2 linked regions of the Homo sapiens genome follow. The protein of the gene in region 2 interacts with the protein of the main gene of each other region in a pairwise test. Each region holds a gene or a part of one and is shown on either strand. Other genes may lie near its edges.

What was found. The genes of interacting proteins can lie anywhere in the genome.
Region 1: the proteins of SCLY (region 2) and LNX2 interact in binary tests that used the Homo sapiens proteins (3 or more experiments, as listed by UniProt).

The regions. Positions count from the first base shown.
Region 1 is NC_000013.11:27,575,520-27,582,547, forward strand, and holds part of LNX2 (ligand of Numb protein X 2), read right to left. Parts: intron 6,285-7,028; 5' UTR 6,185-6,284; coding exon 5,778-6,184; intron 1-5,777.
Region 2 is NC_000002.12:238,084,982-238,092,009, reverse strand, and holds part of SCLY (selenocysteine lyase), read right to left. Parts: intron 793-7,028; coding exon 756-792; intron 1-755. UniProt on the Homo sapiens protein: Catalyzes the decomposition of L-selenocysteine to L-alanine and elemental selenium.

The DNA of each region.
Region 1 (7,028 bases), on a different chromosome or scaffold from region 2:
CTTATTTTCCTGCCTTACTGCTTGAGTTGTGACATCTCATCTCCTGCCCTCAGACTGGGATCACTGGCTCTCCTAGTTCTCAGACCTTCTGACTGAGAAGGTCTGAATTATGCTACTGACTTCCCTGGGTTGCCAGCGTGCAGAGAGCAGAACGTGTAATTTTTCAGACTCCTTAATCATGTCAGCCAACTCCTCATATATTGGTTCTATTTCCTTACAGATCCCTGACTAATTCATTAGTGAAAATGAAGCTGGTATTCATTTAAAATAGACTGCTATAAACTAGGATGTTAATTGTAAGCCCCAGGGTAACCACTAAGAAAATAATTTTAATTAAGAGAAATGACACGGGAATTAAAATAGCATATTAAAAATATTTAACACAAATGGAAGAAATGGAGGAAAAAAGAAATAAGACATATAGAAACAAACAGCAAAATGGCAAATGTAAAGCCTACCTTATCAGTAATTACATTAAATTACATGAATGAAACATCCCAATAAAAAGTCAGTGACTGGCAGAATGGGCTACAAGAAACATAATCCAACTGTCTACAACAGACACACTTCAGATTCAAAGACATAAATAAAGCAAAAGACAGAAAAACATAACAAGATATGACAATTATAAACAGAAATTGTACCAAACAATGGCCCCAAAATACGTAAGTAAAAAATGACAAAGAGAGAAATAGACAAATCAACAATAAAGCTTTTGATACTCGACTTTCAATACTAACAGAACAACTAGACATGGAACCAGAAAATAGACCCTTTAACACTATAGACCAATTAGACCCAATAGACATATGGAGCACTCCATCCATTAACAGCAGAATTTACATTATTCCCAAGTACACACAGGACATTTTCCAAGACAGGCCATGTGCTAGGCCATTTTAAAAAAGGCCTCAAGGCTGGGCATGGTGGCTCACGCCTGTAATCCTAGCTCTTCGGGAGACCTAGGTGGAGGATCACCTGAGCTCAGGAGTTTGAGACAAGCCTGGTGCAATATGGCAAGACCCCGTCTCTACTAAAAGCACAAAAAAAAAAAAAATTAGTTGGGCATGGTGGAGTGCGCCTGTAGTCCCAGCTACTCGGATGCTGAGGCACAAGAGTCACTTGAACCCAGCAGGTGGAGGCTGCAGTGAGCCAAGATTGCACTGCTTCACTCTAGCCTGGGTGACAGAGCGAGATGCTATCTCCAGAAAAAAAAAAAGAAAAGAAAGGCCTCAATAAAATTTAAAGGATTGAACAATACACATTATGATTTCTCATTGCAATTAATTCCAAATGGATCAAAAACTGAATTATAAGAGAGAAAACTAGAAAACTCTTAGAAGAAAACGTACATGTAAATTTTTGTGACCTTGAATTGGGCAATGTTTTCTTAGATATGACACCAAAAGCATAAGCAAACAACAATGAACTTCATAAAAATTAGATATTTGTTCTTTAAAGGATGTAGGAAAGTGAAAAGACAACTGACAGAATGGGAGAAAATATATGCAAATCATATATCTGGTAAGGGTCTAGTATCCAGAATACATAGAAAATTCTTACAACTTAGCAAAAAGACAAATAATCCAATATAAAAATGAACTAATGATGTTGAGCATGTCATGTGCTTACTGGCCACTTGAGTATCTTTGGAGAACTATCTATTCAAATCCTTTGCCCATTTAAAATTGGATTTATCTTTTCATTTCTAAGAGTTCTTTATATATTCTGGATACTAGAATACACATGATTTGCAAATACATATATCTGCTTTTTCACACCATACATGAAAAAACAATACTGATAAGAATGTGCTAAACACAAACTTCCCTCCAAGTTAAAGTGTGAATTTAAAAGTGCAATCATGCCTCAGCCTATCCTGATCCCTTTTTTTTCTATTTAGTTTTTCCTGGACCATCATCTAAAGCAGGGTTGTCCAATCTTTTGGCTTCCCTGGGCCACACGGGAAGAAGAATAATTGTCTTGGTCCACACATAAAATACACTAACATCAATGATAGCTGATAAGCTTAAAAAAAAAATAATCCCAAAAGCCTTCCTGGGCTGCATGTGGCACAGGCTGAACAAACTTGAACTTAAGGTTTCATAACCATCTCATGAACAAGAAAAGTTCTCAGCAAGGAAAGAGGCTTCTTTAAAGGTTTTCTATTGTAAACTTTTTATAATGGCATTAAACTGTAATTTTTAAGAGGAAAAGTAATTCTGAACCTTGCCATAAACTAGGGCACAAACACACAATTTAAAAACAACAACAACAACTAGCACTTACAATTACCAAAGGCTTAAATGTTAAATCGTTAAGGGTGGGTTGGAGATGAGTGGTAGAGCGTAGGAGGAATGCTATATAGCTGATGTTGCTTGGCAGAATTTCAAAGAAACAATCAAAATGTTACATATTTAGTACAACATGTAGAATATTTTTCAAAGGCTTTATTTCTCTGTTCAAAGATAGAGACTGTCCATGTCTCTTAAAATTCTTCATTTCACTAATACATAATCAGTTAAAAATAGCAGTTTTATTTAAACATGTTCATCTTTCATAAATATTTTATCTGTAGGAGAAAAATGTTTGCTCTTCTCAAATCAAAACACATTTGTTAAGGGCAGGATTTCATTCAAATAGGAAGGTGATCTTAAATGTGAAATTATCAAATTTATGCAAACTACTGCTAATGCTCTATTTCTACCAATAATTAAGAGATTCCTGTAAACCCTAAAAGCTCAAGAGCAAAGGCACATGACAGCCATGCAACTTTTATACAATGACTCTTTGTTGCTGATGCTAAAATCTTATGAATTTCAATGAAACTTACAGACTTACCAATTTCTAACAAACAAGTGAGATTTGTATACCGAGAAGCCGCAAACAGTCGTAGTAATCATATTCTGCGCCGCATAACATCATTCTTCTTGCTAGTTTATGTTGGTTTTAGAACATGGCTGCAAATTTTTTTGACTTCCCATCACAAGGTGAAACCTATGTCCCCTTTTCCTTGGATATGGGTGGGTTTATGACTGCTTCCAACAGAGAAGGGATGCCAGGCAACTTCAAGGCTAGATCATATGAGGCCATGCAGCCTACTAGACACTGAACCACTTATGTAAGAACTTTAAATACCCTGAGGCTGTCATGCTGGGAAGGCTACCTGTAGCCTCTCCAGCTGACAAGTCCCACGCACCTAGTCATTCCCATCAAGGTGTCAGAAATGTGAATGAAGAAACCATCTTGGAAGTAGACTCTCCAGTTACAACTGTTGCAGTCCCTGGCTTTCAGCTCCTTCCCAGCTGTGGCACACATAAAGATAGCAGAGACAAGCCATCCCTGTTTCATCCTGTCTGCATCCTGACTCACAGAATCAACAAATGCTTGTTGTTTTATGTCAGTGTGTCTGGGGTGGTTAGTTTCTCAGCAATGAATAACTGAAACACAGATCAACAATTTAATTGGACTAACATGAGATGACTGTCAACTTTGGGCAAATAAACTGAAAGACTATAAAGACATGGTTCTGTTTCTAAAGGAATCTACAACCCGGCATTAGATTCTAACTTGCAGAGACTACCTAACACCTAGAAAAGTATCTGGCACATAGCAGATAATCAATATTTGCTGAATAAACAAATGAACTATATTATTTAGGGTTGAATGTTGTATAATATACATTTCTACCTGAATTTCAATGTTCTTATTTAAGAGAACAGAGAAAGGTCAGGCTGTTCATCACTATCTGTTCAAATGGCATATAAAAATCATATTACATTTTATAATTTTTTTACATTTATATACTCAGTAATCACTCTTAGCTGTCTGTATCAGGCAAATCACCACCTTTTCCAATCATCCATCTTTTCACTGTATCTTTCATGTTACAGGCCTAAGATACTTTAGAAATGATAAAATTGGTTACTTCAATACTAATAAGCACAGCTGGAAAATGAAACCTTCAACTGGATAAGCCTTTACCAACATGTAAATGAAAAGGCAGTTTGCAATTACCAAGGTTTTTTACATTCTCATTATAAATGGTTTGATAAGAAACACTAGTAATAGTTCAACTGCAAATTAAATTCTTGAATGCATGTTAAAGGAATATTCCTGAAAATCTGTGAAACTGTTATCTTTCAGCTCTCAAAATCATAAATAACTGAACTGACATTTCATTCAGTTCCTCTAACATCTCATAACTGATGTTTAGAAAAGAAGCCTATACACTGAAAAGAACAGTTCTACTGAAAGAAGCAGCCTGAAATATTCTTCAGCCATAACTAGTCCTGACTCAGACTAGTATATTCAAAAGACCAGTGTCAGTTTCCAGGAGGCCTCTGCCATCATGTTCAGATTCTATGCTTGCTGGTTACAGAAGATATAAAAAAATGCAATGCTACATTATTACACGCATTTTCAAAAGTCTGTCTATCCTACTCTATCTTACCTCCTAGTTCTAGACAACACAGTTTAGAGTTAAGCATTCTATAAATCTAAATGTTTCCAACATTTTAATAACATCTTTGTTTTTTTCATTGTTTCTCATGTCTTAACTCTGATGTTTAGAAATAAATATCAACAATATATTGATACAAAATGAATGTGTATTTCATGTGCACATGAATGAAACTTTTGCTACATAGCAGCAGAGAACATGACTTGACCTACGATAGAGTCAACATGGTTTATTAGAATAGTAAACAAGAACAGTAAAGCTTGAGTCTAACTACAGCATTAACTAAATTTTTGTGACTCAGTCTCCTTATTCATAAAATGAGGGGGATTAGATAATCTCCTTCAAGTCTATGATTTTATGTGTGAGTATAATAGCAAGCCATTCTATATCAGACTTACACTCTTACATCTAAGTCCAGTATGATGTAGTATGCATTGTTTTTCACAGCAATCGAGATTACTGCAGATTTATACTGTAAAACTGGCTTAACTTGAAATTAGAAACCAGTATTTATTTCTGCCATTTTATGTGATTCTACACAAATGACGTATACTGTAACTCTTCCTAAGTTAAAGATCAAGTCTTTTAGCAAAATCAAATTATAAAACTCATCAGCTAAATAAATTACTTAACCTTTTAAAAAGCTTTTATGAGAACAGAAATCCCCACTAAATATTTAGTTTTCCAACTCCTAATTCTTGTTCAGTCTAGTCCCTGAACCCAGAATCTTTACAAGATCTTAGCAAATAAAATAATGTATTTATTTCCATATTGCAACAAAATTATCGTTTTTATTGGCTGCATAATATCCCACTGAGTTTATGTGCATAGTATTTTTTAACCCTTCCCTACTTTTAAATAACTGATTCCAATTTACCAAACTATGCACAATGTTGCACTGAACATATTTACATACAATTTTTCCTGCTTTTAGATTATTTCCTTAGGATAATAAACTAGATAAAAGGAGATTTACATTCATATAGTTTTTAAAAACAAACTGCCAAACTGCTTTATAGAAAGAATCTATCATAATATCCTGTCATCTATTTGAATATATCAGTTTCATATTACAGCAGCAGAAATATTAACAGGTATAAAACAGTACTTCCTCACTGTAGTTTTTGTATTCATGTTTTTGATAAATAATGTTAAATACTGTTCCATACAACTTATTTATTGTATCTCTTCTGTACTTGATTCACCCATTTACTTACTAGTGCTCTGGTTTGTTTTGTTTTAATCAAGTTTTTATGTTCATTTGAACCACCTTTTTCCAAAATCTGGAGTTACTTCTTTTATATTTTTTGCTTACCTGTTTTTGAGATGTGCCTCCAGATCACAACGTTGCATTACATCTTTGCACACTGAAGAAAATGGACATAAAACTAATAATTTGTCTAGGAGTTTATGAACTAGAATACTAGACTTCTTGCACAACTTAAAATGAAGTCTTTTCCGGTCCAACGGACAGAAATCTTTCTCTTGTAAAAAGTTTCTGAGGCACTTGTAGCAGAATGTATGTCCACAGGGTGTGTCTAGTGGCTGCAGCAGAGGTTGAAGGCAAATATGGCAGACTAGGTCATCATCCACTTCATTCTGGTAATTGTACAAATGGTTTTCTCTTGTCCAGTGCTGTTGGCCACATTCAAAACACAGGGGGTTTAGAGAAGAGGAGGAGGTCTGTTCCACAGACACCATCTCATCACTTGTTGTTCCCATTTTGAATCAATTCTGTATCCTCATGTGTTAGACTTCCACTTCACGCTTGGTTTCCTTTAACAGACAGTGATGTATCTGACTAAAGTCAAGGTGTGTTTTTCTAGATAAGCAAAACAAACACATTAAAAAAGGTAATTAATATCAATCAAGATAGGTTAAAAGTATCAATGTAATATTACTGGTTAGCTTTTTTTAGTAAAAAATTAAAGGTTGAATCAGGTAATAAATTAGTCATAAAAAAAGAAATTAATTTTCTAGTTGGCTAAGAAGGACTTACACTGCCAAGTTCTTTTTTATTATAAGTTTTAATTGTCTCTTTTGATTTTTTTATTTATTTGCTTTTTGAGTCAGGGTCTTGCTCTGTCACCCAGGCTGGAGTGCAGTGGTGCAATCTCAGCTCACTGCAACCTCTGCCTTCCAGGCTCAAGTGACTCTCCCATCTCAGCCTCCCGAGTAGCTGGTACTACAGGTGCACGCCACCATGTCCTGTTAATTTTTTTGTATTTTTTTGTAGAGACAGGGTTTCCATGGTGGAAAGCCCAGGGTGGTCTTGAACTCCTGGACTCAAGCAATCAGCCCTCCCAAAGTGCTAGGATTACAGGTGTGAGCCACCGTGCCTGGCTCCCACTGTCAAGTTCTTGATAAAAAAACAACTTTTGATGAAAGGTAAAGACACCATAGATTATATAGTGTGACATAAGAAACAATCGATTTGTTTTACTGACTGAAATCCCCAAATATGTCACTGTTCAATGGTAGTTTTAAAGCCAATTAATTGTGCTAATAGTAATGCTGTTTGAGGTATATAATACATTTGCATGTCATCTTAGACATGCTTCTTTGC
Region 2 (7,028 bases):
CATACTCTTCCCAAGGCCCGGCCTCCTGGGCGCTAAGCCCTTTCTCTGTACTGGGGATACTGAGGCCGACATGGCCAAGCCCCTGCTCTCGGGGAAGCAGAAGGTGGGGCATACATCTGAACACACTACAGAGAAACATCAGATAGGGGAAATAAAGCAGTGTCAGGGATAGAGGGTGACAGCAGGGGACATGGGGGAACCAATGTAGCTGTGGTTCATGGAGGGTTGCTTGAAGGTGGTGGCCTTTGACCAGAGGCCGCACAGTGAGGGAGCAGCCTGCAGACGCCGAGGTGTAACCAGTACCTCTGCCTTCGCACGGCAAAACCTGAGCCTGGTTACTGTCGCAGAAGCAGGACAGGCCCCAGTGGAGGGCTGGTGGCAGGTGCTGGATTGGCCACCCCACAGACCAATCGGGGACAGAACGTCGATGGTGCGGGGGCTGCCGACGCCTTTGGGAATGGTGAACCTGCAGCTTGACACTTCACCTCTGCTGTAACAGTATCACTGTTTCTCATGTCAGAAGAGACACAGACAAGGAGTTTTTCCCTTTTAAATGCTAAACAAGTGCCACTAATCCACAGATCTGAAAAAGTACAGCTCTCCAGGTTGATAAATCAGATTCCAGGCTTTTTCTTGTCAGTCCGCTTATGAGATCACGAATATGATCTCCCTAAAGCCCCAGATTCCTACTAGAGCCGCTGGGGACACTGATGACAAAGCAATCAACTCATCTCCTCAAGCTCACCAGGGCTCACCTTCCCAAGGCCAGCAATCATTGGGGTGTTCTCTGTCCTGTAAGAAACAAGGGATTAAGCAAGAATAAACAAATGTCTCAGGAAGGAATCCTGTCTCCATGAAAGTCATTGTGTTAAAATAAAATCAAACTCACGCTACATCTTTCCTAAGCACGCGCCATGTGGCTATCTCAATGGCAGCTGCAGGCCCCAGAAACCTCCCCTGCCAAGTTTTCACTTGCCCTGGCCCAGTGAAGGTCAACGAGGCCCACTGTGGGTGATGTGTTGGGTGTTCACTGTGACAGTTCTATCTGGACCCTTTTCCTACCCAAAGCAAGCACTCTGCCTCCTGTAGGCCCCAAGGCACAGCTCTCTTTAGTCCTCACTGCCAAATCAGTATAGTATGGAACAGGGGAGAACCCTTTGTTCTCAACATTTCAGGCATCAGCAAACAAGAGGGGTGTGTGTGTGTGTGTATGTGTGCAAGCGCGTGTGGGTGTGCACACACACAGGAGATGGGCAAGAGACCCCTAAAGACAATGGCTTGCATACTCTGACCTAACAAACCGAAAAACAGAACTCATTACCCTATTTTCAGGAAAAAAAAATTAACTTAATAATTAATTTCTTAATTTTTTTTTAGATGGGGTCTCGTTCTGTTGCCCAGGCTGGAGTGCAGTGGATCTCGACTCACTGCATCCTCCACCTGCCGGGTTCAAGTGATTCTCCTGCCTCAGCTTCCTGAGTATCTGGGATTACAGGCATGTGCCGCCATGCCCAGCTAATTTTTGTAAAGACAGGGTTTCACCATGTTGGTCAGGCTGGTCTCGAACTCCTGACCTCGTGATCCAGCCACCTCGGCCTCCCAAAGTGCTGGGATCACAGGTGTAAGCCACTGCGCCCGGCCCATTAATTTCTTAAGTTTGCCTGAACAAAGTTTTCTTAAACCTCTGGACTCGGCTATTGCTTGTTTACCAATAGATATTTTCTCTGCACCCTCACCAGCATTTGGTGGTGTCTCTATTCTTATTTTAGCCATTCTGATAGGTGTTAGTGATATCTGGTGGTTTTAATTTGCATTCCCCCAATAACTAATGCTGTTGAACATCTTTTCCTGTGCTTATTACCTGGGTCTCCTCTTTGGTGAAATGTCTGTTTATATTTTTTCCCTATTTTCAGATTGAATTTTTTATATTATTTTTGCTGTTGAGTTTTGTGAGTTCTTTATATATTCTAGATACCATTTCTTTGTCAGATATGTCATTTGAAAATATTTTTTCCTAGATTTAGCTTATCTTCCCATCCTCTTAATATGGTCCTTCCCAGAGCAAAAGCTTTAAATTCTGATGAAGTCTAATTTATCAATTTTTCCTTTTATGGATGCTTTTGGTGTCAAGTCTAAGAACTCTTTGCCTAGTCCTAGAACTTGAAGATTTTCTATTTTTAAACGGTTTTATTGCTTTATGTTTTACATTTAATTTCAAGATCTATTTTGAGACACTATTTTATGAGGTGTAAGACAGGGGTGTCTAATGCTTTGGCTTCCCTAGGCCACACTGGAAGAATTGTCTTGGGCCACATATAAAATACACTAATGATAGCTGATGAGCTTTAAAAAAAAAAAAAATCGCAAAAAAAAAAAAAATCAATGTTTTAAGAAAGTTTATGCATTTGTGTTGGGCTACATTCAAACCTGTCCTGGGCCGCATGCAGCCTGCAGGCCGCAGGTTGGACAAGCTTGGTGTAAGACTTGGGTCAAGGTTCATCTTTTGCCTATGGATGTCTAACTGCCTTGGCACGATCTGTTGAAAGGCTAACTTTCATCTGCTGAACTGATTTGCGTCTCCTGCGGTTGTATCTGCACCCGTAACTCATATGGGCCTATTTCTGTTTGGGTCTATTCTCCTCCATTGATCTACTTGCTGGGATTTTGATAGAAATTGTTAGGCTTGTATATCCACCTTTGACATCTTTGGTATGTAGAATCTTCCAATCTATGAACACGGCATGTGTCTCTGCTTAGATCTTCTTCTCATCCACATTATATTATTTTCAGCATATAAGTCCTTTATATTTTGCTAGTTTATATCTGAGTAATTTTGTTTCATTGTAAATGGTATTATATTTTTAATGTTACTGTCCACCTGTTCATTACCACTATATAAAAATAAGATAGATTTTTGCATGTTTATCTTGTGTCCTGCAACCTTGCTATCCTCACTTATTAGTTCTAGGAGTTTTCTTGTACATTCCTTGGGATTTTCTTTATAGACAATCGTGTGATCTGATTAGAAACAATTTTACCTCTTCCATTCTGATCTATATGCCTTTTGCTTCCTTTTCTTGCCTTACTACGCTGACCAGAACTTCCAGCACTATGCTGGATAAGTGTGGTGACAGTGGACATCCCTGCTTTGTTCCCCCAGCCACAGGAGTAAAACATTCAGGCTTTCACCACTAAGTATGATATCAGCTGTAGGTTTTATGTAGATGTTCTTTTTCAAGTTGAGAAAGTTCCCCACTAATCCTATTATTCTGAGTTTTTAACATGAATGGTTGAATTTTGTCAAATGCTTCTGCTGCATCAAATATGATCATGTTATCTTCTTTATTCATTAGCTTGTTAATATGGTAGATTACATTGATTGAATTTTTTTATTTTTGTAGAGCTGGGTCTTGCAGTTCACCTAGGCTGGCCTTGAACTCCTGGCCTCAAGTGATCCTCTCGCCTTGGCATCCCAAAGTACTGGGAGATTACAGGCATAAGCCACTGTGACCTGCCTTGATTGCATTTTTTCTTTTCTTTTCTTTTTTTGAGATAGAGTCTTGCTCTGTTGCCTAGGCTGAAGTGTGGTGCTGCCATCTCAGCTCATGCAAACTCTGTTACCCAGGTTCAATCGATTCTTGTGCCTCAGCCTTCCAAGTAGCTGGGATTACAAGCGTCTGCCACCACACCTGGCTAATTTTTGTATTTGTAATAGAGGCGAGATTTCACCATGTTGGCCAGGCTGGGCCCGAACTCCTGACTTCAAGTGATTTACCCGCCTTGGCCTCCCAAAGTTCTGGGATTGCAGGCATGAGCTACCACTCCCGGCTCTAGATCGCATTTTGAATATTGAACCAGCCTTGCATCTGTGGAATAAATGCCACTTGGTCACAGTGTATCATTCTTTATTTTTTTGAGACAGAGTCTCACTTTGTCACCCAAACTGGAGTGCAGTGGTGTAATCATAGCTCATGCAGCCTTGACCTCCCACGCTCACTCAAGCAATCCTCCTATCTCAGCCTCCTGAGTAGCTGGGATTATAGGCATGTACCACCATGCCCAGTTAATTTTTTTATTTTTTGTAGAGGGGTCTCACTATGGTGCCCAGCCTGGTCTTGAACTCCTGGGCTCAAGTGATCCTGATCCCCTGCCTCAGCCTCCCAAAGTGCTGGGATTACACGCGTGAACCACCACACCCAGCAGTGTATAATTCTTTCTATGTATTGCTGAATTCTATTTGTAAACATTTTGTTAAATATTTTTTGCATCAAAATTCATGAGGATGTTGGTCTGTAAAGGATTTTTTTTGTACTGTCTTTATCTGGTTTTAGTGTCAGGATAATACTAGCTTCATAAAATGAACTGGGAAGTTGTCCTTCCTCTTTATTTTCTGGAAGAGACTGTATAGAAATGTTAATTCTTCTTTAAACAAAGAATTCTTCGATAGAATTCTCTAATGAAACCACCGGGCCTGAAGACTTCTCTTTGGGGAGTTTTAAAGCTGTAAGTTCAATTTCCTAATGGTTATAGAGCTATTCAAATGATCTATTTTATATCAAGTGAGTTGTGGTAGTTTGTGTTTTTTGAGGAAGTGGTCAGTTTCATCTAAGTTGTCAACTTCCTATGTGTAGAGCTGTTTGTGGCATTCCCTCATTATCCTTTTGATGGCTGCAGGGCCTGGAGTGGTACTCCTTGTTTCATTCCTGATGTTATAACTTCTCTGTTTTTTTGGTCAGTCTTGCTAGAGGTCTGTCCTGGGCTCAAGCAATCCTACCATCTATCTCAGCCTCCCACATAGCTGAGACTACAGGCCCGTGCCACCACATCCAGCCATTTTTTTTTTTTTTTGTAGAAACAGGATTTCACCATGTTGCTCAGGCTGGTCTTGAACTCCTGGCCTCAAGCAATCTACCTGCCTTGACCTCCCACAGTGCTAGGATTAGAAATGTGAGCCACCACGCCCAGCTAATGTTGTCTTTTTTTTTTTTTTCAGACGGAGTTTTGCTCTTGTTGCCCAGGCTGGCGTGCAGTGGTGCGATCTCGGGTCACCACAACCTCTGCCTCCCGGGTTCAAGCGATTCTCCTGCCTCAGCCTCCCAAGTAGCTGGGATTATAGGCATGCGCCACCACACCCGGCTCATTTTATATTTTTAGTAGAGATGGGGTTTCTCAATGTTGGTCAGGCTGGTCTCAAACTCCTGACCTCAGGTGATCCACCGGCCTTGGCCTCCCAAAGTGCTGGGATAACAGGCGTGAGCCACCGTGCCTGGCCAATATTGTCTTTTTTTTTTTTTTTTTTTTAAAGAGACAGGGTCTTGCTCTGTTGCCCAGGCTGGAGTGCAATGGTGTGATCATAGCTCACTGCAGCCTCGAACTTCTGGGCTCGAGTGATCCTTCCCCCTCAGCCTCCTGAGTAGCTGGGACTACAGGCACGCACTGCCATGTCGGCTAATTAAAAAAAATTTTTTAGAGATGAGATCTTGCTATGTTGCCCAGGCTGGGAACTCCTGTCCTCAAGCAATCCTCCTGCCTTGGCCTCCCAAAGCAGGGGGATTATAGGTGTGAGCCATCGTGTCAGCCTGTGTTGTTGTCACTTTGCCAGTTCCAGTGAAGCACAGACCTCATCTCCTATTATGTTCCTTTACCTTTGCCTTTCTATAATTATCTTAAATATGTCCTTTATGTACATTTTGAACCACATCAGATATTGCTAAGATTTTTGCTTCTGCTATCAAACGTAATTCAGAAAACTCTAAAGAAGAAGGAAAGCCTATTGTATTTGGTGATAAATTCTTAGTTTTTCTTCATCTGAGAATGTTTTGATTACTTCTTCATTCCTGAAAGATATATTCACTGGGTACAGGATTCTAGCTTGACGGTTTTCTCTGAGCACTTGAAGAAAAATAATTGTGTCCCTTTCTTCTGGTCTTTCTGGTTTCTGATGAGAAATTCAGTCATCCAAATTCTTTTTCCCATACTGGTGAAGTGTCATCTTTCTCTGACTGCTTTAGAGAATTCTGTCTTTCATTTTTAGAAGTCTAATCATATGTCTCTGGCATAGATTTCTTTGCGTTTATGCTATTTGGGGTTTACTCAGTTTCTTGATTCTGTATGTTTATGTCTCTTGCCAAATTCAGGAAATTTTTTAGCCATTATTTCTTCAAGCACTTTTTCAGGCTGTCATCTTTCTCTGTTTCAGGGATTTCAATGAAACGAATGTTATATCATTTGTTATCGTCTCATAGGTCCCTGAAGCTCTATTTTAAACCCCATTCTTTTTATTTTTTTGAGACAGAGTCCCGCTCTGTTGCCCAGGCTGGAGTGGCACGATCTCGGCTCACTGCAACCTCTGCCTCCTAGGTTCAAGGGATTCTCCTGCCTCAGCCTCCCGGGTAGCTGGGACTATAGGCGTGTGCCACCAAGCCCGGCTAATTTTTTGTGTATTTTTTTTTTTCAGTAGAGATGGGGTTTCACCGTGTTAGCCAGGATGGTCTCGATCTCCTGACCTTGTGATCCGCTCACCTCGGCCTCCCAAAGTGCTGGGATTACAGGTGTGAGCCACAGCACCCAGCCGAAGACCCACTCTATTTCTTCTCTGTGGTCTGGATTTCTATTGTTCTGTCTTTCAGCTCATAGATTTCTTTCTCTGTCCTCTTATTTTTCTATTAAGCCCATCCACTGAGCTTTATATTTTGGCTGCTGCTGTTCTTAGTTCTACAATTTCCAATTTCCATTTGGTTCTTCTTTTATGTTGTCCTTCTCTTTGCTGACACTTTGTTTCACTTGTTTCAAGGGTGTTCACAATTTCTCATTGAAGCATTTTTACTGTGTCTGCTGTAAAATATTTGTTAGATAATTTTAACATCATCATCTTAGTGCAGGCGTATATTGATTATTATTGTTCATTCAATTTGAAATCTTTCTAGTTCTTGGTATGATGAATGATTTTCACTTGAAACCTGGACATTTTTGCCTTACTTTATGAGAACCTGGATCTTATTCAATCTTTCTGTTTGGGCTGCCATTTT